Linked DNA regions of Homo sapiens. The protein of the gene in region 4 interacts with the protein of the main gene of each other region in a pairwise test. Each region holds a gene or a part of one and is shown on either strand. Other genes may lie near its edges.

Region 1 (8,098 bases), on a different chromosome or scaffold from region 4:
TCCACACTGACATAAGTAAATGCTTGAATAAAGAAATAAACAGAGGATCGCATGGGCCCGGGAGTTCAAGGCTGCAGTGAGTCATGACTGTGCTACTGCACTCCAGTTTGGACTACAGAGCAAGACCTGTCAAGGAAAGGGAAGGGGAAGAGGAAGAAAAAAAGAAAAGAAGAGAATACGCGAGTCTCTTCAACAGAACTCCAAAGAATGTCTACAGACACTTCCTTGCAAAGAGGTGGAGCACAGCTTGCCACTCATTAAGTGTTGACCCTGCACTCGTACACCATGGGGAGGGGAGGACAGAGTAACTTTACAGGGTGAAAGCTGACAAACACTACTCAGCCAGGTGATCAAGTGACAAGTCATGCTGTGTGATGTTGTGTGCACACACCCTTGATGTGATGTGATGAGAATGGCACTTTAACTCTGTGGTCTTCCTCCCAGAAACCCACACCCCCAGTCTAATCGTGAGAAAAACATCAGACAAATCCCAGTTGAGGGACATTCTACAAAATATCTGACCAGTCAGTACTCCTCAAAGCTGTCCAGGTCACTCTAAACAAGGAATGGACTGGGGGAGCCCAAGGGGCATAACTACTAAATGTAATGTGGTTTCCTGGAAGAGAAAAAAAGACACTAGAGAAATATTAAAGAAACTGAACAAGCTGTGGACTTATTTAATAGCAATATATTAATACTTGTTCCTTAGTTGTGACAAATGTACTACATTAATATAGGATGTTAACAACAGGGACTGGGTAAAAGATACACAGGAACACTCTGTACTATCTTTGCAATGTTTCTGTAAATCTAAAATTGTTGTGAAAGAAAAAGGTTTTAATAAAAAAAAAACTATAAATGGCCTCATCCCAGGTGAAGGTCTGTGGCTGCATGGGAAGTCAAGTCCGCAAGAGAATGAGAGGCTTCAGCTCATACCCTCTCCTTCACACACACACACGCGGACACAAACACACACACACACGCACAAACACACGCACATGCACACACACACACACAGACACACACTGAGGTACTGGTTTGGAGAACTTAGTTCTCTAGTATCATCTTCATCATCCTCAGTTACAAATGCTGACAGAGCATCTACAACCTGTGACATACCATCCAAACACCAATCCCAAAAATGTGCTATCCCAAGGATATAAGACACGGTCCTTGCAAACTAGGTAAAGAGACAGGACTTAAACAATGATGTAGGCCGGACACTGTGGCTCACACCTATAATCCCAACACCGTGGGAGGCCGAAGCCAGAGGACTGCTTGAGGCCAGGAGTTTGAGACCAGCCTGGGCAACATGGCAACTTTACTTTTGTAGACCATCTCTACAAAAAGTAAAAATTGGCCAAGCATGGTTACATGCGCCTATAGTCCCAGCTACTCAGGAGCTGACATGGGAGGACTGCTTGAGCCTAGGAGTTCAGGGATGCAGTAAACCATGACAGTTCACTGCACTCCAGCCTGGGCAACAGAGCAAGACTTTGTCTCTTAAACAAACAAACAAAAAACCAATGATATGAAGATATAAAGTGGTATTTGGTATTTATTAAGTGCAAGTAGTAGACTGGTATGATGAAACCAAACCTTTCTTTTTTTGCTTTTTTTGAGATGGAGTCTTGCTCTGTCACTAGGCCTGGGCACAGTGGTGCGATCTCAGCTCACTGCAACCTCCGCCTCCCGGGTTCAACCTCAGCCTCCTGAGTAGCTGGGACTATAAGTGCCCGCCACCACACTCAGCTGACTTTTTAGTAGAGACGGGGTTTCACCATGTTGGCCAGGATGGTCTCAATCTCTTGACCTCGTGACCCGCCCGCCTCGGCCTCCCAAAGTGCTGAGATTACAGGTGTGAGCCACAGCACCCGGCCCAAAACCAAACCTTTCTTGATTTCAGCCAGCAGTAATTTCTCTCTCCTCTCTCCCGCCCTCCCTTCCTTCTTTTCTTTTTTTCTTCTCTTTCTTTCTTCTTTCTTTTTCTCTTTCTTTGAGTCTCGCTCTGTCGCCCAGGCTGGTGTGCAATGGCATGATCTCGGCTCACTGCAACCTCTGCCTCCTGGGTTCAAGCGACTCTCCTGCCTCAGCCTCCTGAGTAGCTGAGACTTTAGGAGTGTGCCACCATACCCAGCTAATTTTTGTGTTTTTTAGTATAGACGGGGTTTCTCCGTGTTGTCCAGGCTGGTCTTGAACTCCTGACCTCACGTGATCCACCCACCTCGACCTCCCACCGTGCTGGGATTACAGGCATGAGCCACTGTACCCAGGCAGTACATTTTATGTTCTTTCCGTCCCATGTCATTTATAAATCAAAAAATGTGTTAGTGTACCACACATTCTATACCTTAAAACATCACATAAGTTGACCTTTTAAGAGGATGAAATGAGAATAAACATCAGTTCCAATGTTTTCGTCTGGCACCCCATGAAACATCTTGCTCCACAGGTATACACTCTCAAGTTCACCAAGGGAAGGAATCTCTAAGGGCTGGGCCAGGATCAATAACTCAGTAGGGAAGGTGGGTCCGCAAAGAGGTTTTAAAAAAAATAAAAAGATGGCAGCACTTACAGAAGCAGGAAAAGAGGCAATTGCAAACAGGGAGAATATATGGAGAGCCAGAAGATGGGAATTTGCATGGAATATTTTGCAAGCGATAGGCAGATCAAGTTAGCTCTGAAAAAAGTGCTGTGGAGGGTGGAGGCAGGAACAACAACAGATGCGCTGCAGCAGACACCCCGATGCGACCGTCTCCCTTCACCAGATGCAGGGAGACAGGGGCTACTTTAGCCATAGCACAAGGTCCTGCACACCTAATTTGACCTGATGGTAACTCAAGCCTTTTAAAATATTAAAACTACCCAGGTGCAGTGGCTCATGCCTGTAATCCCAGCACTTTGGGAGGCTGAGGTGGGAGGATCACTTGAGTCCAGGAGTTTGAGACCAGCCTGGGCAATATAGTGAGATCCCATCTCTATAGAAAAAATATGTTTTACATCAGTCAGGCATGGTGGTATCCACCTGTAGTCCCAGCTATTCAGGAGGCTGAGGTGGGAGGATCGTTTTAGCCCAAGAAGTAGAGACTGCAGTGAATATGACTGCACCACTGCATTCCAGCCTGAGTGACAGAACAAGACCCTGTCTCAAAAAAAAAAAAAAAAAACTTTAAAAAAACACATATAATAAAATGCAAAACCTACCTACCAAATTGTCAAAAATTAAACAGAAGGTTTACCACCACCACCCCCTCCTACCAAAGGCCCAGGTGGGCAGAGGAATACAGAGTCACTCTTTTGTGGTTGGGGAAGGAAAAAAAGGCAGAGAAAATGAAAGATACTGATCAATGCTGTGGCTGCGGGTACCTGAGACATCTGGCATAAATAGTGCTCACTTTTCCCACCTGAATCACAATACAATAAATGACATTTGGAATCACTGCACTGAGCTAACTTTTGCAAAAAAAAAAAAAAGAATTTAATAATGAGGTTACTTTTCTGATATGCCTGCTCTTTGTGACAAACAATTGTAATGCCAAGGCAGGGCTCCGAATTAGCCACTTGCTACAATTTTAAAAGACATCAATCCAATATTTTGCTCTGCAGACATGCTAATTTTACCATAACTTCCCCAGTTTTCTGCAACAGTATCTTCATAAGAAGATTCAAAGAAAAGCTGATAATGGAATCTAAAATCCCTAGAGGGAGCAGTCTTCTAGATCAGAGATGGTTGTCCAGCATCTCCTCCGAGAATATTCCTTCCCTCATTTTAGTAAATACAAAGTTTTAAAACAGTAATAAAGCACTGCTAGTCGACTATAAAAGCACATGATTTTAAATGAGAAAGGGCCAGGTGCGGTGGCTCACACCTATAATCCTACCACTTTTGGAGACTGAGGCAGGAGGATCACTTGAGGCCAGGAATTTGAGACCAGCCTGGGCAACACAGTGAGACGCCAGCTGTATTAGTCCATTCTTACAGTGCTATAAAGAATCGCTCAAGACTGGGTAATTTATCAAGGAAAGAGGTTTAATTGACTCACAGTTCCACATGGCTGGGGAGGCCTCAGGAAACTTATAAACACGGTGGAAGGGGAAGCAAACATGTCCTTCGTCACATGGCAGCAGGAGAGAGAAGTGCCAAGCAAAGGGGGAAAAGTCCTTACAAAACCATCAGATCTTGTGAGAACTCATTCACTATCACAAGAATAGCATGGGGGTAACCACCCCCATGATTCAACTATCTCCCATGGGGTTCCTCACACGACATATGGGGATTACGGGAACTACAATTCAAGATAAGAATTGGGTGAGGAAACAGCCAAACCATATCACCATCTCTACAAAAAAATAAAGTGGGCATGGTGGCACACACCTGTAGTCACACACCTACAGGTAAGTGTCTGTAGGTGACACACACCTACTCAGGAGGCTGAGGCAGGAGGATTGCTTGAGCCTGGGAGTTTGAGGCTACAGTGAGCTGTGATTGTGCCATTGCACTCCAGCCTGAGTGACAGAGCAAGACTGTTTTTCCCTGAAGTCTCTTTCTTCTGTTCTGCAGTGGGGAGCTGAGGTTGTGCTACCTCAGTTCTCATCTCTTCACCAGCAAAAACTCCACAATTATTTTGTCTTTTCTTCTTTCTTTTTTCAAAGCCCTCTTCTCACTTCCCTCACCCTTGTAATGGGCCTAGATTTGGGAGTTCACGAAGAATCAGGATCATGATCATAATTATAATCACAGCTGGCCTTACATGTCCTAACCAAGGACTGGGCACTGTACCTGCCTCACACCAGCCCTGTCCCACAGAACCTTTTTCCATAATGGGAAGTTCTCTTCTGTGCTGTCCAATGCCGTAGCCACCAGCCACCTGCAGTTATCAAGCCCTTAACTTGTGGCCAGTGCCACTGAAGAACTGAAGCTTTCGTTCTAAAACGTTTACATTTAAGCATCCACAGGGAGCTAGTGGCTATTGTACTAGACAACACAGGTTTGGACCTTCACAAGACTGTAACTATTCTCTCCGTTTTACAGATAAACCAAGTCTTGCCTGGTGCAGTGACTCATGCCTATAACCCCAGCACTTTGGGAGGCTGAAATGGGAGGATCTCTTGAGGCCAGGAGTTGGAGGTTGCAGTGAGCTATGATCGCACCACTGCACTCTAGCCTGGGCAGCAGAGCAAGATCCTGTCTCTTAAAAAAAAGAAAAATGAGAGGGAGAAAGAAAAACGTCAGTCACATTCATCTCTCTGGTTTCTAAGAGAAAGCATCAGCTCTGGGCTTGTTCTACTACAACCTGGGTTAATCAGGGATGCCTCATGACAATACACAATTGTGTTTAAGATCAAGAAAAACTTTCAAGTGCTCATGATTCCTTTAAATAAATTAAAATCAGCATCTGTTCACATGCAAGAGCTTTAGTCATCTTCCACTTTAAAAACAGGTTTATTACATAAAAGCAGACTAACCCAGATGATCCTAAAAATTTCCAGCATAGTTCTCCAACACTACGAATTTCAAGTAGTAACAATACCAGCTTAGACTTAAATAAACCAGATTTCTCTCTAAAGCATCTCCATCCACCATAAAAAAGTTATTTTGAGCAACAAAGATTTTTTAAATCCAGTAAATTCTAGACATGCCATGTTACGCAGCTACCACTTTGAGCTCCTGCTTTGATGCCATACCACCTGCCATTAGTCAATTTGATGATAACCAAATTTACAAAGAAATCTGAAACAATGAAGCAATCTAGTGTGAGAGGGTACACCACTGTGCCCCCCACAACCCTTTGGGTAAATATTGTCATTGCCACCCTTTTTAATGATGGAGTTCTAAGCCCAGAGGTCGAGTAACTGACCCAGGGTCCTTAAGCTATTCCAGCGGCAGCCAAGGCTTCACACCCAGATCTCACTACAAAGCCCAAGCTCTTCCTACAACACTCTGTTCCAGCTAGGATTGGTTCATGAATTTTACTCTCAACTAAACGAAAAAGTTGGATTATTTCTATATGTCCATTTACAAGAACTTTTTTGAGGACTCATTTGTTTACTGTTTCAGAACCCTGGACGTCCCTTATTTATATGACAGTGTCTTTTTAAAATTATATCTACAGCTGTTATCTAAGTGACACAATACACAGGGGCCAGAGAGGGCCCAAGGACTCTAAATTTTTAAGAGAATTTGCAGGAACACTCAGCACACTGATTATCAGCAAAACTGTAAGGATTTGATAACTTCAGTGCTAATCAGCTACAAAACTGCAGACGGACTTCCTATTACTGTTCAAATGAGCATATTTAGTTAACCCCAAAATATCACCAAGTAAAAGTAATTGCAGCAATCCCAACCAAAATCAAATTTCAAGATTTATAGCTATAAATCCTAAAATAATTTGCATAGAAAGCCTGTTGAAAATAATTTTCCCAGAGGCTGTTAAACACAGTAATTCATACTTTAGAAAGCATTTCCTTTACTTTAGAAATCTTTTTCAAAATACAAGTCTGTTTGTTTAATCTAAAACGAGAGGCTCGGTTTCACAAGCTGCTGTTTAATCAGTAGCTGAGTCCCACTGGCTTCACGGGCTTCCGTGAGGTCCTTTATCTGGAGCTGCTAAAAGCTTCCTCTGTACTCTGTGACCTAATATGCTGCAGAACAATAGAACTGGGTTTCCTTGTCTCACCACTATCCTAATATTAATAAGAAAGTGTGAGCTTAGAGAAATTCGTTCACATATACAAGATCTTTCTTTATTTCTAGTCCCCGTTTATGATGTGAATCCTGAGAATCTTAGAAAAGGCGCATCCATGTTTTCTAAGAGAAGAATGATCTGATAACTATGATCTGGGGAAAAGAACTGAACTGTAATCTTAGTTTGGCAATTTAACTGGGTGTGAAAACAGTGAACTTTCTCCCTTTACATAAAAGCTTCCTAGAGAGGACCAACAAGTCTTAGTCTACATAACAACAAGGGCCCTTACAGAAACACAGATTCTCAGGAAAAGAGGCTCCTAGACGGGGCGGGCGTAGGGGGCAAAACGGCATCCCAGCTCAAAGAAGAGGCCCAAAATAAAGTTCAACCAAGAAATGCCTTCTTGCCTGATGGGCAAGTGCAATCTATATATTTACATAGCTTTATTATGACTGAATAAGAAAATATCTTTTTCAGCTTCTGAGTCTAGCAATGAATCTAGATGATGAAGACACCATAGATAAATGATCTTCAGTTTAAAAGCTGAATTTCAGTTAACTGCATGCTTTCTCTAAGGCACCATTAAACTGGATAGACTGATCAGGCTTCAAGCAGAAAGAAGAACAAGGAGGCGAAAGACCCTATGAAATGGGTCTATCCTTATTTGAAAGTGTCTAGCTCTATCTTCACAAGGAGTGCAGGCTCCTAGATTACCAGAAGCTTTAGTTAGGTTTTTGGCGTGTAACTGCTCTTTTATCTACCATACATGGTCAAGCGGGATTCCTCTTTTTTAACCAGCGAGCTCACTAGTCAGGATTAGCTTAAAGGTTTTTTTTTAAACTTGGTCTAATATATCTTGGTCAAGAACCCACCTCAGCTAACGAGGATCAATAAACTCTTTTGGATGGAGAGACAAGCCCCTGAATATCTATGTCTGATTGTGCATCTTCCTTTCTTTTTTTTTTTTTTTTTTTTGAGACGGAGTCTCACTCTGTTGCCCAGGCTATGATGCAGTGGCACAATCTCGGCTCACTGTAAGCTCCGCTCCCTGGGTGCAAGCAATTTTCCTGCCTCAGCCTCCCAAATAGTTGGGATTACAGGCTCCCACCACCACGCACGGCTAATTTTTGTATATTTAGTAGAGAGGGAATTTCACCATGTTGGTCAGGCTGGTCTCGAACTCCTGACCTCAAGCAATCCACCCACCTGGGCCTCCCAAAGTGCTGGGATTACAGGTGTGATCCACTGCTCCCGGCCTGACTGTGCGTCTTTTCCACAGACTTTAACCCTAGGTACCCATTATTCATATGCAACACGTCAAAACATATACACCTATCCTACAAAGATCAGAATATGAAAGGAAAATTTGTAGCAAAAGTTGCTACAAATTACCAAATATTTCCTTATGC
Region 2 (8,098 bases), on a different chromosome or scaffold from region 4:
CAGTGCATATACCGGGCGCTCAGTAAACACCAAGGGCAGCTCCTTCCCTGGTGTCCTGGTGACACCAGTTATCATCATGGCAGTGCGGCCTCAGTACCAGACTTAAGAATTGGTTCTTCCAAAATGCTGGGCAGGAGACCCGGTGTGGAGTGCAGGATCTCCTCAGATACCTCTCCTCTTGGACCTCCAGCCAGGCAGGGTGGCCAGTAGCTGGAAGAGCAGCTGAGGAGGAGGAGAGATGGGGCCCGGCCCTGGCCTGGGAGGCACCACGATCCCTGCACGCACGAACATGGCCCTCCTTAACTGAGGCTCTTCTCACACATCCAGTCTGAGCCCCTGCTGTAGAACAGAGATATCATTCACCCCATCCCATGCCAGAAAACAGAAGCCCAGAATTCCCGCTGCACACCCATGGTAGAACTGCAACCAGGACATGAGCCTCCTGACACCCCTAAAAGCCATGCAGCCTTCTGCCGTGAGTGGGGAAGGGGTCCAGGCATGGCTGAGGTTTGGGAGAAGGAGGTCCGCAACTGGGCACTGGGGGACCTGGCAGCCCAAGGCTACCTTCTGCACACAGACCCAGCCTTCTGCTCTGAGGGGCCCAGGCCCTAAGCTGCACGATGGCCACCACCCACACTTCCATACCCAGACCAGCTGCAGCGGCCTGGCCAGGATGATGGGCGCTCCTGCCCAACTGCAATTTCCCAGCTGCTGCAGAGTTAATCACCAGCCTCACTGGCAGTTGCTTCCGGCTTCTATGCAAAGGAAACTGCCAATTAGGTTATAATTAATTTCTTTCCTAGGGCAAGGCCTGGCTGAACAGGACTGGCCACCCAAGTGGCCTGTGGATGACCATGTAAGGGTCACTGGCCCCCTTGGCTGCAGGGCTGTAGAGTCTGCCCCAGCTGATTACATTGTTCACTGGCCCTGGCCTGGGGCAACGGGGCCAGGGCATCACCACTGGCTTTGACCCTGGTGCCTCTGGCCTGGGCAACTGTCCCCATGCACTCAGCAAGGCAGTGACTCAGATCATGTCCATGTGCAAATTTAAGTCAATCTGTCAGCTCATGTTCCTCAAGCTGAGATGGTCTTGCCCATTTTCGCCCTACCCCAGCCCCTTCTCATCCCTGTTCAACATTAACCAGTAGGAATCCACGGTGTGCTCCTCATGAGCAGGTCTGCTCCGGGCGCTTCATCTGCATCACCCACTGCATCAAAACAACTGTCAGAGGTAGGGACCATGAGGATTCCCATCTCACACAGGAGGAAAATGAGGCAGCACTAGCTTAGGTACCCTGCTGGAGGCCACACAGAGGCTAGGAATTAAGCTGCAGTCTGGCCTGGGCTTCTCTGTTCAGTGACAGGCATGCAGAGAAGCCGAGGCACCGTGAGCTACCACCCCTTCTGCATTGGGCTGCAGAGTAGAAGCTGGGCTCTCCCTGGAGAGAGGACACAAAAAAGGCTTGAGGGTCTGCTCTTAAGAGCAGTGGAGAGCAGAGGGAGAGAGCCAGGAGCCTCTGAGACAGTAGGTTTCAGCCCAGCACAGACCTGGGGCCAGACAAGCTGACAATCCTGATGCCCCAGGTCACAGCCAGGCAGCCCGATGCGGGGGCACCACCTGCATCTGGATGCTGTTATCCAGGTCCTGGGAGCAAAGACCTCAACATCAAGGGTGAAGAAGAATCCAAACCCAAGGCTGGGGATGCCATGCAGGGAAGGGGATGCCCAGGGAAGTGGTGCCAAGTCTTCATCTGACACTACCCCCATGTGTGACAACTCACGCCTCCCTCAGGGCCTCGATTTCTCCCTGTGTAAAATGAGAGGTTTGCACTGATGTGTAAGCTCCTCTCAGCCGAGGTCCTCATGCCCTTTGAGTCCACGTGATGTCTATGCAGGAGTATCCACAGAATGAGCTCCTGACCAGGGGCCGAGGGGCAGACGGTGGCCGAGATGGAAATCAGGACAGGCTCTGGCCTAGGTGGCCCCTGGGGGGTGAGGGACATGGGGCCAAAACAGGATTAAGACTGCAAGTGTCCTCCCAGGCCACTGACGATGAGGCAAGAAGACAAAGGCCTAGTCCAAAGGAGAGAGTTCAGCAGCAGAAAGGAGAGAGTTCAGCAGCAGGAAGGAGCAGAAACGCAGGGCAGAGCGGCCCAGCCCATGCCCCTGTGCTTCCCCGCTGTTTGCCAGGGCTGGGCACTTGGCTTCCCTGGCTCTGTCCCTAGCTGCGAATGGGGACAGGAACTCCTCCTTGGGAGCACAGAGTGCCTGCCTATGGATGCCAGTGTTCCACCCCCACCAAGCAGATTTGCAGGAGCCCACAGAGGCTGCCTGCCACCCTCGGTTCAGGGCCCCCCAGCTCCATGCTGGCCTCCAGAGCTGCCTAGGTGCATCCACCGCTGTCCTGAGAAAACTGCCCCAGGGCCTGGCAGCATGACATCACACCACGGCAATGATGATAATCAACTTACAGCGGATCCGATTATCAGCCTGGTTATTTTTAGAGTCAGGGTTCAGGATGAGCGAGAGAGGGCGGCCCTGGTTCCCCTGCTGCTGAGTCTCGTCTTGTCAGTGGGGTGGGGGTCTGCTGGCTCCTTGCACCTTCCCCTTCCTCCATCCTTCACAGGGCGGTTCCTGAGAGGCCCCTTCTTATGCACAAGCAGTGACACCATGGTTTCCAGATGTTGGTGCTCAACGTGGCCTCAGAGTCCAGGTCTTCCGAGAATGTCCTCAAGGTCCTCGAGGGCAGTGGTGATTCAATGCCCATGTGAGGAATCAGACGAATCCACACTCTCCTCACAAGGGACCTGGGGCTCAATCACTGACAGTGACGGCCCTGGATAAAGCTGCTTCTCTGCAGCTCTTGATGCAGATGCAACAGCAAAGTCAGCTGTATGGCAAGACAGCCATCTAGTTAGACAACAGGCAGAGGGCTCGAAGAGATGCTTCTCCAAAGAGACATGCAACTGGCCAGCATGCACAGGAAAAGATGCCCAGCACGCCATCACCGGGGAAAGGCAAACCAAAGCCACAACGAGCTAGCACTGTGCACTGGCTGCACGGCCAGAGTGAGACATGAACCAGAGAATAACAGAGAATAATGCGTGGTGGTGAGAATGTGGATAGATTGTAACCCTTGGGAATGTAACACAATTCAACCACTGTGGAAAACAGTTTGGCGGCTCCACAAAATATAAAACAGAATTACCTAGCGATTTCATGTCCAGGTATGTACCCAAAAGAACTGAAAGCACGAACTCAGGTATTTATAACAGGAATGTCCCTGGCAGCATTTTTCATAACTGCCAAAAGGTGGAAAGCACCCACGTGTCCATCCCCAGATGAATGGGTGACGGCACACTATTTACCCCTCACAGGAAGGGGCTGATGTGTGCCACAGCCTAGAGGAACCCTGAAGACCTTATGCTGAGTGAAGCCAGACAACAGTCCATGCAGATGAAATGTTCCAGGACAGGCCAAGCCGCAGAGACAGAACGCAGGCTGGGGGTTGCCCGGGGACAGGAAGCAGCTGTTTAATGGGTATGGGGTTTCCTTTTGGGGTGATGCAAATTTTTTGGAACTAAGGCAATGCCTGTTCAATGCTGTAAATGTGCTAAATGCCACCAAATGGTTCACTTATAAATGGTTAAACTTATGTTACACAAATTTCACAATTAAAAAAGAGTAAACCATAATTATTTGCTACCCTGTTTCCCCCTCTGTCCCCCTCAGCTGCTGGGCCCGCCAGGAGCCCCTGCTATGTGGACCAGGACAAGGGATGGAGAGCTGGTAGGCAGAAGTGTGTGCAGGTACACCCCTGCGTGCCCCCATCCCCGCGTCCTCTGTACTTGAAGCCTCCTGGGGTGAGAACGACCATGTGACAGGATCCCACGGAACACAGGGAAAGTGACGGTGGCCCCCTCCCAGGCCTCAAAGCTCCTTAAGCCTCAGGCTTCTTGAAGCTCTGTGCCCTCCTGTGCACATAGCCAGGCACAAGGGCTGGGAGGTGTGGCCACCCAGTGGGTAAGGGCCATGCCAGGCTATGCCACAAGAAGGACATAGTAGATGGCGTTAAGCCCCTGAGACTGGGGGGCATTCCTGTCACCAAGTACAGTCTCACATGCCCCTGCATATACAGGTGGTGGGGAGGCTAGGGGAGCAAAGACAATTTGAGGCTTTCCCGGGTCACGAGTTTTCAAGGTGCTGTGGGGCATCCTGTATGTGACCTGCCAGAGGAGTCTCCTGCAGAGACAACCTGTGGGCTGCCCACCGGTGCTGGGTCCCATAGCCAGGCTGGCCCCTTACGATGGCAGAGCAATGTGCCCATGTCACCAAGCGCCCATGAGCCCCGTTGTTTCCCTGGGTGAGGAGGGCCAGGCCCAGAGCCCCACTTGGGCTAAGTGTTAGGCTTCCTGGGGCTGGCAGACGCCCTACAGGCAATGGTGGTGGAGCAGGAAGGGGAACAGAGCAAGAGGAAGCCCCTGGCCCCTAGCCCAGCAACAGCTGCCGGGTCTGTGCCAGTTGCACTGCCAAGTAGTATGAGGAAGAAACCCAATGAGCCCTCTCCCTCCCTCCAGAACTGCACCAGCTCATGCTGCACCTCCAGCTCACCCACCCTCGTCCCGGCACCCAGAGCACACATCTCCCCAGTCATTACTTAAATTCTAGGAAATACATGTTTCCTTTTTCCCTCTCAGGAACACAAGGGCGAGAATCCTCTGGAGTCACAGGCACACAAGGGAACTGGAAACAGCTTGGTGGCCACTGTCCTGCTCCTGCCCTGGGGCCACACTGCCCCTCAGGTGCTTCCTTGGAACCCTGGCTCCTGCAGGGCATGGAGAGCAGCAGCACAGAGGAGCAAGGGCCAGGAGTGGAAGCGCAGCTGCAGCACCCGAATCTGGGAGGGGGTCTAGAACCTGGGGCTGTAGGGCCACAGGTTCTCCCCTGAGCACAGAGCCCCAGCACCAGGCCCTCCAGGTATCCCTGATATCAGGGAGGAAAGCCTATGCCCGCTGGTCCACCAGGTAGGCGCACACCTGTCCAGGTGCAGCGGTGACCTTTCTGTGGTGGTGCCTGGGCTGCTACACTTTGTGGAGCCACTCCTTGAGGCAAAAGCAAACAGAGGTGTTTGCTTGGAGCTGGCCACCTGCTCCCTCCAGGGCCAGGTGCGACCTGAACTGCTGTCCTTAAGGTCCTGCTGGCACCATCTCCCTGCCCCAGGCTTTTCAGGGGCCAAGAGCCCAGCCAGGAGGAGCTGTGGGAACAAGGACAGCTTGCTGCCTGCTCTTGCCCAGCCCTGCCCTGCCTGCAGTCTCAGGGTGGACAGTTCAGGGACCCACAGGCTTCATGGCCTCTAGGCTTGGGGAATGGAGGGGAGCGGGGTCCCTGAGGCCCCCATGATCACACAGCTGCGGGACCAGAGCTCCATGGAGGTTCAGGCCTCATTGTCTCAGCGCCAATCCAAGTGCCCAGGCCTGGCCCCAGAGCTCAGAGAAGGGGGGAGAAAGCAGAGAGGTAAAGCAGGACCTCAGGGGCTGCCAAGTGTCCCAGAGCCTTGGTCAGGAGAAGGCCCGTCCTCCAAAGTTCTCCTATGAGAGGTACAGCCTGCCTCAGGGGACAAAGAATCAAGCACCAAGGCTTCGCCTCAATCCCTGAGCCGGCCCTGGCTGCTGTTCTAGTGGGGGAGCCAGAGGGGCTCTGGTGGGCCTGGGGCCTTCTCCCCTTCCAGCCCCAAGGGGTGCAGTGCCTGGGTCATGGACCCCAAGGGACCTCCCCATTTGACCTCATAGTCCCACTGACTGGCAGCCTCCCAGGGGCCATGGGGTGCTCCCCTACCCCATGGGGCACAGAAGACGGCTCTGGCAGGCCCAGGTGCAGACGGGCACGGAGAGACAGCCCTGGTGCCATCATCACCTTCTCTGTGACCATGACTGAGGTGTGCTCCCTGCCTGGTGGTCACTGCCCAGTCCCCGCCCCTTGCCACACACGCATGCGGAAGTCCCTACACAGGGTCTCCTTGACTACGGTCTCTCCCTGCCATGAGACAGCTCTGGAGAGTCCCCAGCCCTAGAGCAGCAGGGCAGGAGCCGAGGCTCCCTCAGGAGTGCTCCCAGCCTGCTGTTGTTACTATTATTGTTACTGTTATTGTTACTATTAAGTCACTCTGCTGAAAAATAATTGCAGAGGAGTGGGGAGATAGAGGGCACAGCAGAGAACGGGGAGGGAGCATAACCTGGCACCAGGAAGCAGCCTCCAAAGAAGGAAGGGGGGATGGGGGGGGCCCACTTCTGGGGGAGGGGCTCCTGAAGTGGAAAGGAAGTGCCTCTGCAGGAGGGGAGGAGGGCAGCAGGGAGCATGGGGGGCTGCACCCTGCTTTGCCCCTATTCCCTGGCTTTCTTCTCCCAGGCTGTCCTGGAGGATGGGAAAAATGAGGAGGAAGGCCCTGTCCTGCATGAGGAAACACAGCTGTACCCCCATCCCTGATGCCCAAACCCCATCCCTGCACCCTTGTCTTCAGAGCAGTAGCTTCCATCCGATGCCAGGGCCTCAGGCATATGTTGGCTGCAAGGGCCACAGCCTGGTGTCCCAGCCGAACATCTGCACCGCCACTGGCAGCAAGATGCCTTCCTGCCATCCACAGAGCACACACAGTCGGCCCTTCTGCTGGCACAGCCATGCCTGGTGCTCCTCCCCAGACCCATAGGACTCCCAGACATCAACTAAAGCTGACGAGACCCAGAGAGTATCTCAGCGTCTGTGCATGGTGCCACACATTACTCTGGGATCTGGGCTGGGATGTCCTGAGGGCACCTGGAGCCCGAGGTGGGGGGACTCACCAGTGGGTGGGCAGGCTCAGGGCAACCTCCCTGGAAGCCCTCCTTAGCCCCACCCTGGACCCACACCACTGGCCCAGAGAACGGGCTGGAGCAAGCCAGAGGGCCAGGGCTGGGGAGCTCCCGCATCCTCTCTACCGGTTCGAGTCCATAGGCTATGAGAACCTGTTTCCTCACCTGTGAAATGGGCCAAGACCATGACCCTTGCAGACTTGTTGGAAAAGATGAAGTGAGTAGGCACAGCACAGGGGCAGTGCACTGTGAGCCCCCATGGGGTGCTACTGCTGGTATTAGCCTTATCCAGTTAAGACGAGGGGACCTAGAGGGTCTTCGGCCAGGCTGCAGAGGGGGAAGGTCTCAGGGGAGATGGCAGCTTCCGGGCCTTCCCTTCCCCTTGGCACCCCAGGTTCCATTTTAACAGATATCATAATTTTTAATTGGTTTTCTCCTCCACTGGCTAAAAGGCTATTAGCTCCCCGCTAGGTGATCGCATCCCATTTTCTTCACACCACCAAGGAAACAGTGATTTCCTCAGCCTGTCCCTAAAGTGATTCTGCAGAAGAAAGGCAATTTAGTGAATCAGCTCAATGCACTTCCCCATTTGCTCTCTGCTTGCAGGCCCCCAGCAGGCACAGCCCACCAGTGAGGGCTGCAGGCAGCTTCTGGAGGCCAGACAGGGTTAGTGAGCTGGAGTGGAGGAGGAAGCAAGCCAGGCCCAGGTGAACCTGGTGAAGCCTCTGGCCAGAGAAAGGGGAGAAGGAAAAGGATGAAGCAGGGGGAGCTGTACCCCTGGCCTGAGCTGCCCGCGCTGATACCTGGTGCTTCAGGCAGGGGTGGGCTGCCTAGGCCCTCTGCAGAGGGTGGTCTGGCAGCTTGGATCCGGGCCCTGCCAAGTCACAGTGCCCAGCTCTTCCATGCTGGGAACAGAAGGCCCCGGGGCCCAGGGGCAGAGAGGGAATGTCCTTCCTTGCTGCAAAACAGGACCCAAGAAGTCAGGCCAGGAAGACAAGAGACAAGAGGCTTGCTGAGGAGCTGTGGGAGGTTGAGGTGCAGGGTCAGCCTGGGACCTGGGGGGAACCCCAGAAGCTGAGACTCAGTTTCCTCATCCAAGCAACGGGGACAGCTGTATCTGTGTTGAGCAATGAAATGCCAGAAACCTTTAAGAGCAACTTTTAAATGAATGTAACTTTTAGATGGAGGTTCTCTCACTCTGGTTCCAGCATACCTGGGGCTGACAGGCTATGCCCTGCAGGTATGAGGAGTGT
Region 3 (8,098 bases), on a different chromosome or scaffold from region 4:
TAGATGAAAGGGAAATGTACACTGAAATAGTCTTTTGCGTGGTGCTGCTGATGGGGTAGGGGATGGAGGCAAACCCATCTATATCTTTAAAATGGCGGTATGATATGGTTTGGGTCTGTGTCCCCACCAAATCTCATGTTGAATTGCAATCCCCAGGGTTGGAGGTGGGGCCTGGTGGGAGGTGACTGGATCACGGAAGCAGGGTTCTTGTGAATGGTTTAGCACAAACCCCCCGTGGTACTGTCCTTGGGATAGTAAGTTCTCATTCTCATGGCCGTTTAAAAGCATGTGGCACTTCCCCACTCACTCTCTTGCTCCTGCCATGTAAGAAGCTTGCTCTCCGTTCACCTTCTGCAGAAGCTGCTATACTCCCTGTACAGCCTGCAGAACCACACGTGAGCCAATTGAACTTCCTTTTTTTATCAATTACCCTGTCTCAGGTATTTCTTTATAGCAATGTGAGAATGTACTGATACATGCTATAATACACTTACCATTACATGTACCATTAGTGCATTTATTTAGTTCTTTCACAATATTGTACAACCTTCACCACTATAGGTTCTAGAACACTTATATTACCCTAAGAGGAAACCCCATATCTATTAAACAATCACTCTCCACTACCCCTAGCCTGGCCCCTGGTAACCGCTAATCTGAATTCTGTCTATATGGATTTATCTATTCTGGAAATTTCATATAAATGGATCATACAATGGTGTCTGGCTTCTTTTACTTAGTATAATGTTTTCCAGGTTCATCCAGGTTTGTAGCACGTATCTGTATTTCATTCCTTTTTATGGATAAATAATGTTTCACTGTCTGGATATACCACAATTTGTTTAACCGCTCCTCTACTGATGGCATTTGGGTCATTTCCACCTTTTGGCTATTGTAAATAGTGTTGTTATAAACATTCTCATATGAGTTTTTGTTTGAACATCTGTTTTCAGTTCTTTTGATTACATACTCAGGAGTAGAATTGCTAGGTCATATAGTAATTCTATGTTTAAGTTATTGAGAAACCAGCTCCAATATTTTAAAATTATTGTCTTCATGAAGCTTCTTGAAGATAACTATGTCTAATCCACCACTGAATGCTCAGGCACAGTACTCAGCCCATTGGAAAATAATTTGATTAACAGTATGAAAATCACTATGGGTCAAGGTCCAGTTTTCCCTGTGCCAACAGGTTGCTGACCCTTAGAAGAGCACAGAAGGTCAGGGGCTACCACTTACTTTTATTTATAGGATCTGCCATGGGAATTCCAATCCGGATACAGTTCGCAGCTTCTGGGCTCTCTGGCTGGGGGAGATCTTCACAGTTTGGCAGTTTCAGCCTCATCAGAATCATGGGATTTGATCTTGCAAAAATGTACTCTGTTTGACACAGGACATTCTCCAGGATTTCACATTCATCGCGACACAAGTCACGGGGCTTTGGGACGGATGAAGTTTCATCGCAGTACGGGAAGGCATAGTGGCACAGGGAAGGAATGGCGAACTGAGAACACTTATCAGATAAGTGACTGGAAGTGCCAATCATAGTGAAGGCAGCTGGAAAACAAACACAATTATTAACTCCCAGAGGCCAGGGTTTATCTTCTTTGGTTATCTAGTCAACGGATATCAGATATAAACACACATTGCAAGGAATCCGCCGTGCTGAAACAGACAAGGCCCAGAGAAGGAGATTCATTTCAGATGTCTAAGCAGCTTACTTTCACTGGCTTGAAAAAAACCATTTTGACTACAAAGTTAATAAAACAGGATTAAATTACATATGTACCATTTCCTAATAAAAAAATTAATTAAGTTAAAGTACAATATATTTTTCATTTTTTACTACAAAGCAATCGAACTTTGTGTTTCATCTGGTGCTTTTTATTAGTTTTGTGAGGCTTCTAAAACATTTGACAGCTGTAGGGACAGAACTTGTTTCCGCAGTGGCTGAGCCTGAGCACAGGATCCAGTTCTGTGTCTTGCTGGACGGCAAGAGTTGCTGGATGACTTAGGGTAACTTGCTTAATTTCTTTGTGGCTGGAATACTTTCTACTCCATCTTCTGAAAATGAGGCAACTCACTTGGAAGTTCTCAAAGAGCACAGTACAATTGTTCCAATGTGTATCATCGAATATTAGTGGTTCCTTAGCTTAATCTCTTACTAGTAGGGTAAGATGCACAAAAAGCGCACCAGCCTACCTTTGAATACCGCTATTGACAAGGAGCTTACACCTCACAAGGAAACCTAGGAGGTTGCTGATACATTATTTCCCCAAGTATGTTGCTCAGAACATTAATCATGTGAAATAGAATAGTGCTTGAGAAACAAGCCAACAAGTTTGGGAAACGCTGGGATAAACAAAGGTAAATGAATTTAAAAAAAAACTTTCCACCAGGCTGATACCCATTAGAAATCTCCAAGAGAGGATTTTTATAAATAGGTTACCAATTATTTACATCAAAACTTCCACTTTTTTTTTTTTTTTTTTTTTTTTTTTGAGACAGTCTCACTCTGTCGCCCAGGCTGGAGTGCAGGGTTACGCTCTCAGCTCAGTGCAACTTCTGCCTTCCAGTTTCAAGGGATTCTCATGCCTCAGCCTCCCACATAGCTGGGACTACAGGCATGTGCCACCACACCCAGCTGATATTTGTATTGTTTTTTAGTAGAGATGTGGTTTTGCTATGTAGGCCGGGCTGGTCTCGAACTCCTGGCCTCAAGTGATCTGCCCACCTCAGCTTCCCAAAGTGCTGGGATTACAGGAGTGAGCCACTGTGCCTGGCCCAAAATGTCTACTTGCTTTTGTGGATATTCAGTTAAAAGTACATTAAGGCATTCTTACATTAGGTTGAAATGGGTGTTTAACAGCTCCTCCCTGTCAGTCTTACTGCTCTTTGAAATTTCAGAATTCTCTTCCTGTTGAAATGAGGGCTTCAGAAAATGGCAACTACCTATTCCTACAGTTGCTTCTTTTGGTTGGTTAAAAAGTCCTCCAGGAGGCTGATGCAGGAGAATGGCATGAACCTAGGAAGCAGAGCTTGCAGTGAGCCGAGATCGCGCCACTGCATTCCAGCCTGGGTGACAGAGCGAGACTCCATCTCAAAAAAAAAAAAAAAAAGTCCTCCTCCCTCTTCCCCCCAGCCTCCTCTCAGTTCCTTCACATTCCTCATAGCACATAGCTTCCACATAGCTTCTGGGCCTTTTGCTGTTCTATGTTTCTGCCTTGGGTTTGTTCTTACCTCTCCTAGACCCTAGGGTTGCCAGATAAAGAAAAAGACAACGGTTACATTTTAATTTCAGATAAATATTTATGACATACTTATACTAAAAAATTATTCGTTGTTTATCTGAAATTCAAATGTTACTGGGTATCCTGAATTTTTATTTGCTAGATATGGCAACCTCATTAGAATGTCATGAAGACAATGTGAATGGATTGCAAAGGATACGTGACACAGAGGCATCATAACTACACTAATGGAAGGGGACAAAGCTGCTGTAACCACCAGAACGATGCGTGCAAAATCCTATGAGGCAGCCTATGCTACTTTAACTCATGTGTGCTAGTAAGTGCTTCGCTATTAGATTTCTATCAAAAGGATACTTTCAATTAAGAAAAATGAAGAGTGAAATATTGAAAGCTAGAGCAAGAAGAGACCAATGGTCATCTTGCTTCATCACTCATTTCACAGATGAAGAAGGGGACTTTTTGGGAAAGTAAGCGATTTCCCCAAAGTTCACTGTCATAATAGTTCTGGGATGAGTGTCCAGAACTCTAAACTCTAAATTCATCCCCTCTCAGTCGACATCATGTTGCTTCTAAACAGTAAGCTCTGTGAGGGCAGAGACGTACCTGGCTTATTTACACACCATCACCTCTCCCATTCAGATTCAGTTCCTGGTACGGTGAAAGCACTTAATAATATTTATTGAGTGTTTGAATGAATGTGAGATTTCACAAAGCTTCCTTTTCCTCTAAGAGCAACCTTCAATAAATTACTTTAATGTAAATTCCAGAGCACAGAGATCATGTCTCATGCTTTTTTATGGTCCTGCTCCCAACCTCCATGCTGAGCTTAATCCTTTGTCAAGAGAGGAGCTCAATAAAACTTTTGGCGAGAAAAATAGTTATTCAAGGGACAAATATAATTTCATTGGTGCTACCTACCTGTGATCTGATTTTCTATTTCCCCTTGCATGTGCAAAGACTCCATATAGACGGTGCGGTTGCCAATAAATCTTGCACATGCAATCCCTCTGTATGGCTGACAGAATCCATCTTCTTCATACTCATCTCTGAAAGAAAGCATAGACAGACATTAGCTGATGCACCACATACATACAGGGCACAGCAAGCTCTGACTGCGCGATACCCTAAATAGTCACTAGGGGGCACAGTTGGGCACAATATACAAAAGACTGGGCTAAGGAATTGGGCTTTTGCTCAGTTCTTAAAACATCTGTTGGTCACATTGGTCAAGTTTCCTACACCCCCAGAAAGTCATCCTGAAGCACAAAATCATCCTTAAATATGGGAGAAAATGCTTTTATTTTCGCAGCTGGTGGTGGGCTGGAAGATGATGTAGTTATAGGAGTAAAGAGGAAATGAGTTGGAAATCTGGGCACATGTTCTACAGTTTTTTGTTTTTTAAGCACAGATTATTTCTGCTTCATTTGCTACAAAGGCGTGGGCGAACAGATCCACTCCAACTGACACGTCAATTAGGGGGATCCATGGGGTGAGAAGCTGGGTGCAGCTGGAAAGAAACCCGAGGGTAGCCCAGTTAGGTGACTCTTCACTGCTGAACCTCCATTATCTCTACCCTGCCCAAAGAGGACCAGGGCAAACCATAGTCTGGAGAGTTTGAATTGAGTCACTAAATCCAAGGAAATCTAGAGAAAATGTCCATGGAAAGTTTGCTTTCATGCTTCTCTACAATTTAAAAAAATAGTCTTATTAAAATTTTGCGGCCTCAAAATTATAAGACTTTTTTTATAAGGAGGGGTAATAGATTTCATCTTGAAGACAGAGGGACACCAGAAATGACATGATTCATGTGCCAGGTAAAAGGACTGGAGATCTAAGGCTGGAGATGAAGACCCAAGATGGCAGGCTCAACCTGAAAGGGCAGAGGCTACCATCTCCCACGAGGGCCTACGATGAGCACAAGATCCCTCGAGTGCAGAACATCCAGCTGTTTCTCAAAGGCAGACCATAGCCAAACCAAAGTCTGCCTGCCACGTGTATAAGTTGACTTCAACCCTGGATGCTCCTCCTCAATATATCATCTCAAAAAAAAAAAAAAAAATACACCGTTTTTCCCCTTTGGTTTCTTCTAAGTAAAAATCCCTCAGAGCAAAGTCAGGAGAACAAAATTCTCTTCCTGAGTTTAACATTTGGGCATCCTTAGGCAAGCTGTCTGAGCCCTCTGAGCCACAATTTTCTCATCTACAAGTTGGACACAGTAACTGACTTCTCTGCCCTACATGGGAAAGTCATTATGATCCCATCAGATAATGTAAAAGCTTTTTTAAATTGTAGAGATAATATATGGCTATTCTTAAAGTATTTACAATGACCAAAGGGACATTTATTTAAAAGACAGTTATTTACTAAGCTCCCACATCGTAAGAGGCACTGCGGTTAGTGCTGTGGTGCTCACTTCCCAGCTTGAAGGTCTAGCGTAGGAGTCTAGAAAGTCAAAGTATAGGAGCAAACCAAGTGGAAAAATCACCTGATAGGACACTAATTTTCTGCTTCTCTCTACTCCCATTCATTAAAAGAATCATTTTAAAGGTGAAAGTGGGGGAAGTATCTTCAGTTTAGTACTGAAAATAGTTTGTGTTGCAAAGCTCTTAAAAACTTAACCTTTAAATACACATACAAATGAATATATCATATACCTGACATAAAGACATTGAAATTTTACTGTTGCACAATCCTGCAAGCACTCCACATGTTTACTTTCATAAATCCTAGAGTAATGCTGAAGCCTTTTTGGCTTAAATTTTACTTGGGTTGTAAAATTAACCCAACTTTTATTGGGTAACTAATACCATAAACCTATGGGGAGAAAGAAGGTTCTTGATGACCCACACTTGGATCTTGGAAACCTAAGTACAGAGACCAGAATACACCCCCATGCCACCCCCCTGCTATTACAGATGATGCTTTTCTATCCCTAGGCATTAGCAGAGCCCTGGATTTTTAAGGTGTCATTATGAGAACACTTCTTTCTCCCCCACATTAAACTCTCAAGGCTTCAATTTATATCTCTTGGGAGGACAAAACCCTGGAATTACCCCCAGATATAAATCCCCAACCTACTGGGAGTTCCCATATTTTATGTGTGAGGCTTAGGCTAAACTTCTTACCACCTTTCCAGTTCAAGACTCTTAAAAAGACTCTTTGAATACTTTTTTTCAGAATAAAATGGAATGCAATTCCTTGGCTGCACATTTCTTATCAAAGGCTTAGAACTGCAGGTGTATTAAATTTTTGACTATTCCCAGAATTCCTACTATCCTGTTCAGTCTCCTGGGAGACAGATTTTTTAAAAAAGAACACAAAAAAACCCCAAAACCAGTATGTACTGTTATCTGCTGGGGAGTGGTTCTGTCTTGGCTCCTTATGAGAATCGCCTTGGCAGCACACTGGGAGGCCGAGACGGGTGGATCATCTGAGGTCAGGAGTTCAAGACCAGCCTAGTCAACATGGTGAAACCCCATCTCTACTAAAAATACAAAAATTAGTTGGGTGTGGTGGCAGGTGCCTGTAATCCCAGCTAGTCAGGGGGCTGAGGTAGGAGAATCACTTGAACCCAGGAGGTGGAGGTTGCAGTGAGCCAAGATCATGCCACTTCACTCCAGCCTGGGTGACAGAGTGAGACTCCATCTCAAAAAAAAAAAAAAAAAAGAATGAAAGAATCTCCTTGAGAAGCTTTAGGAAATACGAATGCCCAGGCCCCACCTTAGACCTATTAAATCATAGTCTCTGGGGATGAGGCTTAGGTATCTATGCTTAAAGAAACCTATCAGGTGATTTGAATGTGGTTGAGAACCACAACACTGAAAAAAACCAAACATGTATTAAGTGTCTGCTGCTCTGGGCTGGGTACTGTGTTAGGTGCTTTCTTCAAAGCAGCCCCTGATGAGCTATTATCCTTATTTTACGAGAGAGAAACTCAAATTCAGAGAAGTTAAGTAACTTGCTCAAATTCACAAAGTCAGTCTGTGGTGGAGCTAGGATTTAAACTGAAACTCAAGATGAGGCCACTATCCCATGTTGTTAGATCTGTAACTATGTTCTGCGTTTCAATACTACTCTTAGTTAAATCAGCCTACTCGAGAAAGAGACCTTATAACGAGTCTTGATTCTGTATCAGATACTGCTAAGTTTTATATACTTACAAAACAGATACTAAGTCATTTTATCCCAACAACAATCTTATAAAAAAAGGTAAAGATGTAATTATTCCTGTTCTACAGATGAGAAAAGTGAGACTCAGAAAGCATAGAGAACTTATCCAAAGTTACGCAGCAAGTAGAAGAGCTAGATTTGCTCTAAATAGTGTTTCTAACCACACTCTATAACTTCTTTCCAAGTGGCTTGGCAATGGAGTTTTTGCACTGCTTAGAGGGGCTTTCTGCTGTGGAGAAGCTTTGGTGCATTCTGGGTGGTAAAAGGTTTTCTTTTAAACATAAAGTCAAAAACACATTTCTTTCTTTTCCATTTTTCCCCACTGGCTTTGGCTGGAGGGGAACAAATGCTCCTCCAGCATTAATCAGCTTTATGCTTTTTTCCAGCTCACACTTCTTTCATCATTGATGTCTTCCTGCCTTACTCCATGCTCAGCAAATTAAAAACATGAAGCAAGTGGCAAGGTAGCAAAAGTGCAAGGGCACTTGCAGTGAGCGTGCCCAAGGCTGCATTCAATGGAGAAGAAAAGTGCATTGTGAAAGGGCAAATGGAATTTGGCCATTCATCACAGTGGCTGGCACCAGCGTGCGCCGCTGCCTCACCATGATGTCAAGGTGCAGGGGTGCTTTGTGATGGGAGCTCATGTTTCTCATAAAGGTAATTGAGTTACCATGTTG
Region 4 (8,098 bases):
TTGAATATAGAATATATTCAGTGTTCCAGGTTCCATGCTGCAGGGTCTTATACATTAGCTTTTTAAATGGGAGAAGATGGGATTCGAACTCAGGTAGTCAAATCCTAGAGCCCAAATGTTTTTTTGTTTGTTTGTTTTTATTGTACTACATGAGTTAAGGCATATTTTTGTTGTTTCTGAAGTATAAGCATGCCATTTCAAAACATTTTTCAATCCTAAAAGGTAAGGCAATTATCTTACAAAAGCACCTTGGGTAGAGTTTAGCACATCAAAGGGATTTAGGAAATACTCATTTGTTATCTCCTTCCTGTCTTAAAAGGAAATCTATTTGTCTTTTCCATATGAAATTCAATGCTTGTCTTGAGAGGAAGACTTTTTATTATGTTTCTGTAGCTTCAGTTAATGCTCAGATTTAGGAGTTACAAATAACATGATAAAATTTATAATTTAAGCCCTCTAAATATCAGGCATTCCCAGTTTGAGGAAATAAAACAATCAAAAGTAACCAATGAATGCCTGATGGGAAATCCTGATGCTCTAGAGGTACAGAGGTTCCCAGCAATGCCAAGAGACATGCCCAAATGCCCAAGGGGACCAGGCTTGTGAGGACTCATGTGAATTGCCCTAGTGAGCTTCTTAAATGTCATGAAATTTTCAGAGGCACTGAAAGAGCTGCCAGATGTGTCTCTGGATTTGCATAGAGAAGTGAAGCATCATGAAAAAGTTTCTATAACTGAATTCTGAGTTTTCTTGTGAACTATGGGTCTCCAAGGGAGTCAAACTGAAGCTATAAATAATAGGTCACCTGAGGTAAAATCAGCAGCGAGAAGAGTCCTGGAAAAGCAGGGTCAGCTGAGTAGCCTGGGTTTTAGGGGAGTGGTGAGTAGTTCAATGAATAGGTTGTGGCTGCATGTGACCTTTTCCATTATGTTCTTCCCATACCCATGCCCCTCCTTCTATCCCTTTACATTCAAACACCCCTGTCTTGGCTGGTGTCTGCAGAACCACAGGCAGCCTTCCACATGGACCTACAGCCCAATGGTCTAGAAATTCCATGGGCTACAAATGGTAAATAGGATAGTATCAGTTGGTCAGTAGAGAAGAAGGATGGCCAGAGGAGTAGACAACAGATGGGAAGCCTATAGACCTATGAGCAGCATCCCTCGTCCATGCTTGAGCTTTTCACCCTTTGTGGGTCCCTAGAGGGATTAATTAGGAAGATGTATCCTAGGACAAGTCTAGACTGCCTGCTAAGCAAGGCAGTGCAGTAGGAACTAGGCACTTCAGATTTATGATGTTTATGTAAATGTTACACATTTTCAGTCACAATCAGGCATATCCAAGAGAAATTTTTATTTCACATTCATTTAAGTAGAACTTGCTGAAGACATGATGCTAGAATTCATGTTTAGATGAAACTTTTAGAAAAGGCATTGGGAGAGATATCTGCAGGGAGGTAGATATTTTCGAGCTTCATAGTCCACTACAAACCTGCACATATGGTCAGGCTCCTGCCTATAGCATACAGATGAAAACTATCAAGAAAAGGCTCAACTGAAAAAAAAAAAAAAAAACCACTCAGAATCCAGAATGTATCTAGGTGTGTATGCTTACCCAGTATTGGCATAAACATAAAAAGAATAAGAAATTCCTCCAAGGTACAATTAACCATTTATCATCTCCTTAGTCTAATCACGTAATGCCTAACACTTCTATGACACTCTCTAAGACTGCAAGTTTGGATATATTATCCCACTTAACTCTCAACTACTATGGAATTCTGCTAAAAAGTTATCTAGAAACATGACATTTCCCCTTGTTTAAATTTTCTCCTTTCTTCTGTTTAAGCTACTTTATTTTCTTCAGGGAGAATTTTAAAAATACCACCTTGAATCAAGAAGACAAAGAAACTAAATTGCTTATGATTGAAAGCCATACATTTACATTAATGGATTGATGGTCTTTCAACCTAACTAACTCACTATGATATTATGTTTGATCATTTTTCCCAGATAAGTGAAAGTCACCCAGTGGTGAACTGATTCTGTGCATTTATTGCTTCCTTTTCTCTCCAGTATGCCTCAGGAATTGGATCATTAGTACAGTGAAATAGCTGTAGAGTCTTGCTCTGTACATATTGCTGTACAGTCCAGTGAATCACTGTGAGATGCTTTTACTCTGTGCTCATTAAATGCTCCTTTCCAAAGAATCAGTAGTTTAGGACTGCCTGAGGCCAGTCTTCTCATTTAAGTCAGAAAATGGACATTGCTTTAGATCTGAAAAAAAGGAAATAAAAAATAAAATAGAAATAGGAAAAAATAATTCATGTCCCCAATGAACTTGGCATTTGCTAAGTTCTAGACTGCTGCATAATATAAATAATAGTTTTGCTTTGTTGTTGGTCCATGTGGCTGCAATTTTAATGGACATCAACATCTTAATATATTAAAATCAAATGAGATTTGATTATGAGGAAAGTTTATGCAGTCATTATGAATAAAAATGATTTAAGTGGAAAGTGCTAATGTTTATAATATAAATTTGCTAATTGTCCTTTTGTGGCAAATATCATTACTATAGTAGGCACTTATAGTTACATTATATGGTACATAAGCATTAGGAAATTTGATCTTAAAATAATATTTTAGCATTACATCTTTATTTTTCGAAACTACTAACATCCTTTATGTTGGGAAACATCAATGCTACTCTAAGTGTGTCAGCATTTGTAAATGCCTTGAAGATGAAAAATGCACTCATGGGCCAAGTAGAATCTTTCAAATCCCCTTTTAAAGGAAAAAATGGCTTTCACTAGCTTTTGAATTTGACTCACAGAACAACTTTTAAGATTTAACAATAAACTTGCCATAAAATATAACATCCGTGTTATCTCTAATACTAATGGCAATGAATGGGCTTTTGATTTGTGATCTGATCATCTCACATAAAGCGATTTTTAAATAATTCACAAAATAGTCTCCATTCTTCAGGTGTAAGAATGTCTTCTATGAGAAAAAATATGTGGGATCCAAAAACTTTATGGTTCTATAAAGACTGTATACACACAAAATGAGAGAAAAAATGTATACAACCACTCAAATATTCAGACATTTTGTGTGATGATTTGGTTTTTAATTCAGAGAGAAAAGGAGGGTTGAATAATTTTTGGTCTTGATTTATTGAAGCCACTGTCTCACACTCCCACCTGATTTTGAATGTGTAAATGTCTTGTATTTGCTATAGGTAGATAATAACCAATCAGTAATCAGGGTTAGGAGTTCCGGGTCCATTCTGTAGTGGACAACTATCATGCTATGTTGTTTATCTAACTCTTTGAGCTCTTTAAAGTAAAAAAAAAATCTCATTCTATTCTTAAGTAGTACTGGAAAATCATGCAAGAATGTCTATCCATCTAGAAAGAGTTCAGCACACAAGTACACTACAAATAGCATCATGCCCATGGGACACAAACTTATCTTATGGAGTGTATTTACATAGAAAATTTTCTGTCCCATCTCCATTTCCTTGTTGTCAATAAGTGTAAATTGCACTAAGGTGGCAGTAGTAAAGTCAATTACCTTCTTTATGGTCATGAAGATGAGATATAATCTCTTGGTCAATGTAAATTAATTTATCACAATTCATTTTAACAAATATATTTAATATATGTATTCATTCATTGAACACTTACTGATGCCATATTAGGTAACAAGCATAGTTCTAGGGAATAAGTATATAGAAATAAAGCTGCAATTGTGTTATTGTTCTCAAAAAACTTCAGTATACAGGTTAAGTACATTGACAGGGGAATATACAGGATTGAAAAGGGAAATGTAGGAGAGCTACTTGAATGAGGTGAGTCATCCAAAAAAAAGAAGATTCTCAAAGTGGGCTATGCCTGATCAACATTTGAAGTTGGAGAAAGAGTCATCTAAAAAAAGGAGCAGAGTATTGGTATTTAAGAGAAATAGAACAGTATGTGAAATGATTCAAGACATGGCAAACCAAAGGAAATTTTGTCTTAGTGTGATATTAGTGTGCAAAGGAGGGCAAGATGAGAAGACCTCATCGCAAAAGACTGCCTTCCTAATGAGTTTGGAGTTTATTCTAAAAGAAAAGGAGATAGCTGTATTAAAGAATTTTTTGGAGAAAGAATATGATCAGGTATGCTTTTAAGAGTTTCACCTCCGACATTATTATAAAGAATAAATTTGATAGGAGGTCATCACAAGATATTATGTGAGAAATAAGGATCTGTCTCAAGGCAGTGACATGATCATGGAGAGTGGAGAACATCTTATGAGAAGAGTTTGAAACCTTTAAGATGAAAGTAGCAAAGGGATGATCTAGGATCAATTATTTGTTTCAGACCTGGGTCATTGTGAAGAATCCTGGTGTTATTCACAATGTTAGGGAATATTTATCAGAGTAATTGTGTTGAGAAGTGTTGAGTAAAAATAGTTGTATATAAGATTATTGTGGGGCCAGGTACTGTGGCTCACACCTGTAATCCCAGCACTCTCTGAGGTTGAGGCAGGAGGACTGCTTGAGCCCAGGAGGTCGAGGCTGCAGGGAGCCATGATTGCACCACTGCACTCAAGCTTGGGCAACAGAGTGAGGCCCTGTCTCTAACAACAACAACAGCAACAACAACAACAACAAAAACAAAAAGATTACTATGGAATATACAATGACTTCTAGGTAATTTTAAATATAGAACCAGAGTTCAGGGGAGATAACTGAGATGGAAATGTGGATTTTGGAATCTTTGACGTGCAAGTCTGAGTATAATTATCCAGGGAGATTGTATACAGAGAAAAATAACAAAAAATCAATGACAAGCTGTAGAGAGCACTAACCATTAAATAATACACAGCAGAAGACCTAAAAGTACAAATTGAGAAATGGCTGGAGAAATAAGAGGGAAGCTAGGAAGTAATGACTGTCTGTGGAAGTCAAGTGAGGAAAAATTTTAAAATTCAGAAAGGGGTCAAAATATATAAGTACTATAGAAATGCATTGATAACAAGAACATACATTACAATAACCTCTTTAATTATGTTCAACCATAGGATGATAGGATGAGGACGGAAGCTGATAGAGAAGTAGGTGAGAAATAAAGAAGAAAAGGCTGAATGTGCATAATGCATCCCAGAATTTTTACAAGGTGTTAGGTAGGATGTGATTTTCAATGGAATATGTGAGGTGCTATTCTATTGGAGGTGCTAGAAATATGTCATCTCCAATATACATATTCCTGTGTCTCTTAAGTACCAAAGAAGCAAATCAGTTTTTTCTAGTGTATTAGACTCTCTGTTTGTAAATCAGCTGATCCCTGTAGCCATTCCTACATGTACAAGGCATTTCACTGAGAAGTGAAAATGTAGCCAATCAGCAAAGAATTTGGGCTGCACAATATCTGGCAATCAGTTTGAAAGACTTTTTTCACTGAGTTGATTAGTAGTTCTGGTCTAACACAAACCCATCCTTTATTGCCCTTCAGTTCACAATGACAGCAAAATCTGTTAGAGATAGTGTGTTTTGGGGGCATGTGAGGCAACATGAGTTTTGGACAAATGAGCTGTTTAAGTCCATTCCAGAAGTGGCTAAGTGGACTATGTGTGTTTTTTGTGGGTGTTAAGAAGATATTAAATGCAAAAAGAAGAGACCAGAAATATCACTGTATTACATTATTTATTTAACTTATTTATTTAATCTTTAGAAAGATTTTATGTCAGGAACTGCCCCCAGGTACTAGGTAGCCCAAGACCTCTAATACATGCAATAATAAACAAAACAGGCAAAAATATGTGCCCTAAATGGGCTTACATTTTAATACAGAGAGGGGAAACTACAATAAAAAAAGTAAAATATATTGTATGTTGGGTGGTGAAGACCTCTGGGGAAAGAAAAGTTAGGCAGGGAAAGGGTGCTAGAATTTTTATCTGGGTGATGGGGGGAAGGGAAAATGAAATATGAAATAGAATAACCTCATTAACAAGGTAATATTTAATTAAAGTTCTAAAATTATTGTGGGATTAAGCTGTGGAGACACCTGGAGAAAGAAAAAAGCAAAACAGTATGAAAGGGTGAGTGCCTGGCATCTTCTAGAAACAGAAGGATAAATATGGCTGGAGAGAGGTAAAAAAAGAAGAAAGTAGTGAGAGATAATATCATAGAAATAATGTGGAGAGAGACTCTAGACCATTGTAAGGTCTATATTGAGTGATTTTCAATAGGAAAAACAAATTCTGGAGTTCTAAGGAACATCTTAAAATCTTAAAATATATCATTTACCTGTTAGTCTATCGTTTCTTTTGAGGGTGGTACTTCTGCAAATCATCTCCCAGATCTTCTTGGCACCATCATAGAATACCTTTCTTCTCAGAGACTAGAGAAATTGACTATGCACTTCTCTGAGAGATTTTCAATAGGAAAAACAAATTCTGGAGTTCTAAGGAACATCTTAAAATCTTAAAATATATCATTTACCTGTTAGTCTATCCTTTCTTTTGAGGGTGGTACTTCTGCAAATCACCTCCCAGATCTTCTTGGTACTATCATAGAATACCTTTCTTCTTAGAGTCTAAGGAAATTGACTATGCACTTCTCTGAGAGTGAAGAGATAGTTTCAGGAGATACATTGAAGGCAGTCTTTGTGCCATTCAAAAAGGCTGATAGCAAGAACAACACAGAAATTTGAAAGAACCTTTTCCAGAACTCAAAGAGAAAGCAATGGATTGAAATCAGTTTCTGTATTTTGTTAGCAAAACATTCCCTAGGAAAAAGAAAGCTTTCACATGAGAATTTTTAATATATCTCAAAAATGTACTCTTTTGCAACTAAAATACAACACTATAAATAATATCTCCTCAAATGGAATATGCTTCTTTGGACAAAGGAAGAGGAGAAATGCTGAAGAAAATAAGCTCTGTGGATCTTCCACATAATATTTTTTTACCATTCGTATTATTGTGGTGGCTTTTAATTGCCTCCTTGAATATTCCTGAAGTGGTATTTTCAACTGGAGTTTATATATTAAACTGGTTCACGAAAGAGTAAAGAATAAGGACAGTTAGGTAAAAAGTATTTTGCACCACTAACTTAATCAATGGTGGCCTCACCTATTGTAGAACCAGTGTATAATTTTATATAGTATGCAACCACGGGTCTGGAAACCTGGGCTTTTATCCCGACTATGCTATTAACTACCACTTTAATACTCTAGATCTTCATTTTCTCACCTGTAAAATAAGCAGTTGGATGGACAATAACCACAACTTCCTTGTTAGGTGATCTATAAAAATCGGCTGCCATGGGTAGAGTAGTGTCCAGCTTCTCTAACAAGAACCATGCTTAGTAATCCTTTAGTGTTAATTTACCCAGAGATGCCACTTACACAGCATGGTACCCACTCCTCATTTTTCTCCCACAGCTATTATAGACCACAGTACTTCTCCCTAGCCAGAATGCGAGTCATAATCTTCTTTTTCCCCCCGATGGTGTCTTAGGCAACCATAAGCAAAATAATGGGAGATGGCACTCAAGTTGCAAGCAGTTTGCTACTTATCATTACAGGCATGGTTATATTGAAGGCAACAGTTCCTAATATAGCTAAAAAGAACACTTACATCCCGTTAGCACATTCCTCCCATCTCTAAAGCATTATAAGGTGTCATCAGTTCCACCAGCATAAAGCAGTTGCTGATACCCTGGGCGTAACCAAAATGGATCAATTAGCTTTACAGTTAAAGAGGCCTGAATGTATAGAATTCATTTCCCTTCTTTATGAAGTCAGCCTCTGTTCTGAGAGAAAAGTCTTCCATAAAAGTAACAAACTCACACCTTCAACAAGTAGAGATTAATATCTTGATTTCTTGATCTTTGTCATCCCATCCACTTATTTTCTTAATCTCCAAATGTATAGAAGCTTAGACCAAGGAGCTGTGTTTGTTTTAGTTCTGATGAAAAGCCCTAACAATGTTATTAGATAACTGTGATAAATTTTAATCTGATGACAGCTTGTGACCCACAAATTGCTGTTTAAAATTAAAATGCATTTAAAATGAAATTGGCAAGAGAACTATAATATTAAACT

The links.
Region 1: the proteins of PTPRR (region 4) and LMTK2 interact in a two-hybrid assay, tested with the Homo sapiens proteins (one study listed by BioGRID and IntAct).
Region 2: the proteins of PTPRR (region 4) and RET interact in a two-hybrid assay, tested with the Homo sapiens proteins (one study listed by BioGRID and IntAct).
Region 3: the proteins of PTPRR (region 4) and ROR1 interact in a two-hybrid assay, tested with the Homo sapiens proteins (one study listed by BioGRID and IntAct).

What each region holds. Positions count from the first base shown.
Region 1 is NC_000007.14:98,109,310-98,117,407, reverse strand, and holds part of LMTK2 (serine/threonine-protein kinase LMTK2 precursor), read right to left. Parts: intron 1-8,098. UniProt on the Homo sapiens protein: Phosphorylates PPP1C, phosphorylase b and CFTR.
Region 2 is NC_000010.11:43,079,365-43,087,462, reverse strand, and holds part of RET (proto-oncogene tyrosine-protein kinase receptor Ret isoform a precursor), read right to left. Parts: intron 1-8,098. UniProt on the Homo sapiens protein: Receptor tyrosine-protein kinase involved in numerous cellular mechanisms including cell proliferation, neuronal navigation, cell migration, and cell differentiation in response to glia cell line-derived growth family factors (GDNF, NRTN, ARTN, PSPN and GDF15).
Region 3 is NC_000001.11:64,133,568-64,141,665, reverse strand, and holds part of ROR1 (inactive tyrosine-protein kinase transmembrane receptor ROR1 isoform 1 precursor), read right to left. Parts: intron 4,298-8,098; coding exon 4,170-4,297; intron 1,558-4,169; coding exon 1,240-1,557; intron 1-1,239. UniProt on the Homo sapiens protein: Has very low kinase activity in vitro and is unlikely to function as a tyrosine kinase in vivo. Receptor for ligand WNT5A which activate downstream NFkB signaling pathway and may result in the inhibition of WNT3A-mediated signaling.
Region 4 is NC_000012.12:70,910,194-70,918,291, forward strand, and holds part of PTPRR (receptor-type tyrosine-protein phosphatase R isoform 1 precursor), read right to left. Parts: intron 1-8,098. UniProt on the Homo sapiens protein: Sequesters mitogen-activated protein kinases (MAPKs) such as MAPK1, MAPK3 and MAPK14 in the cytoplasm in an inactive form.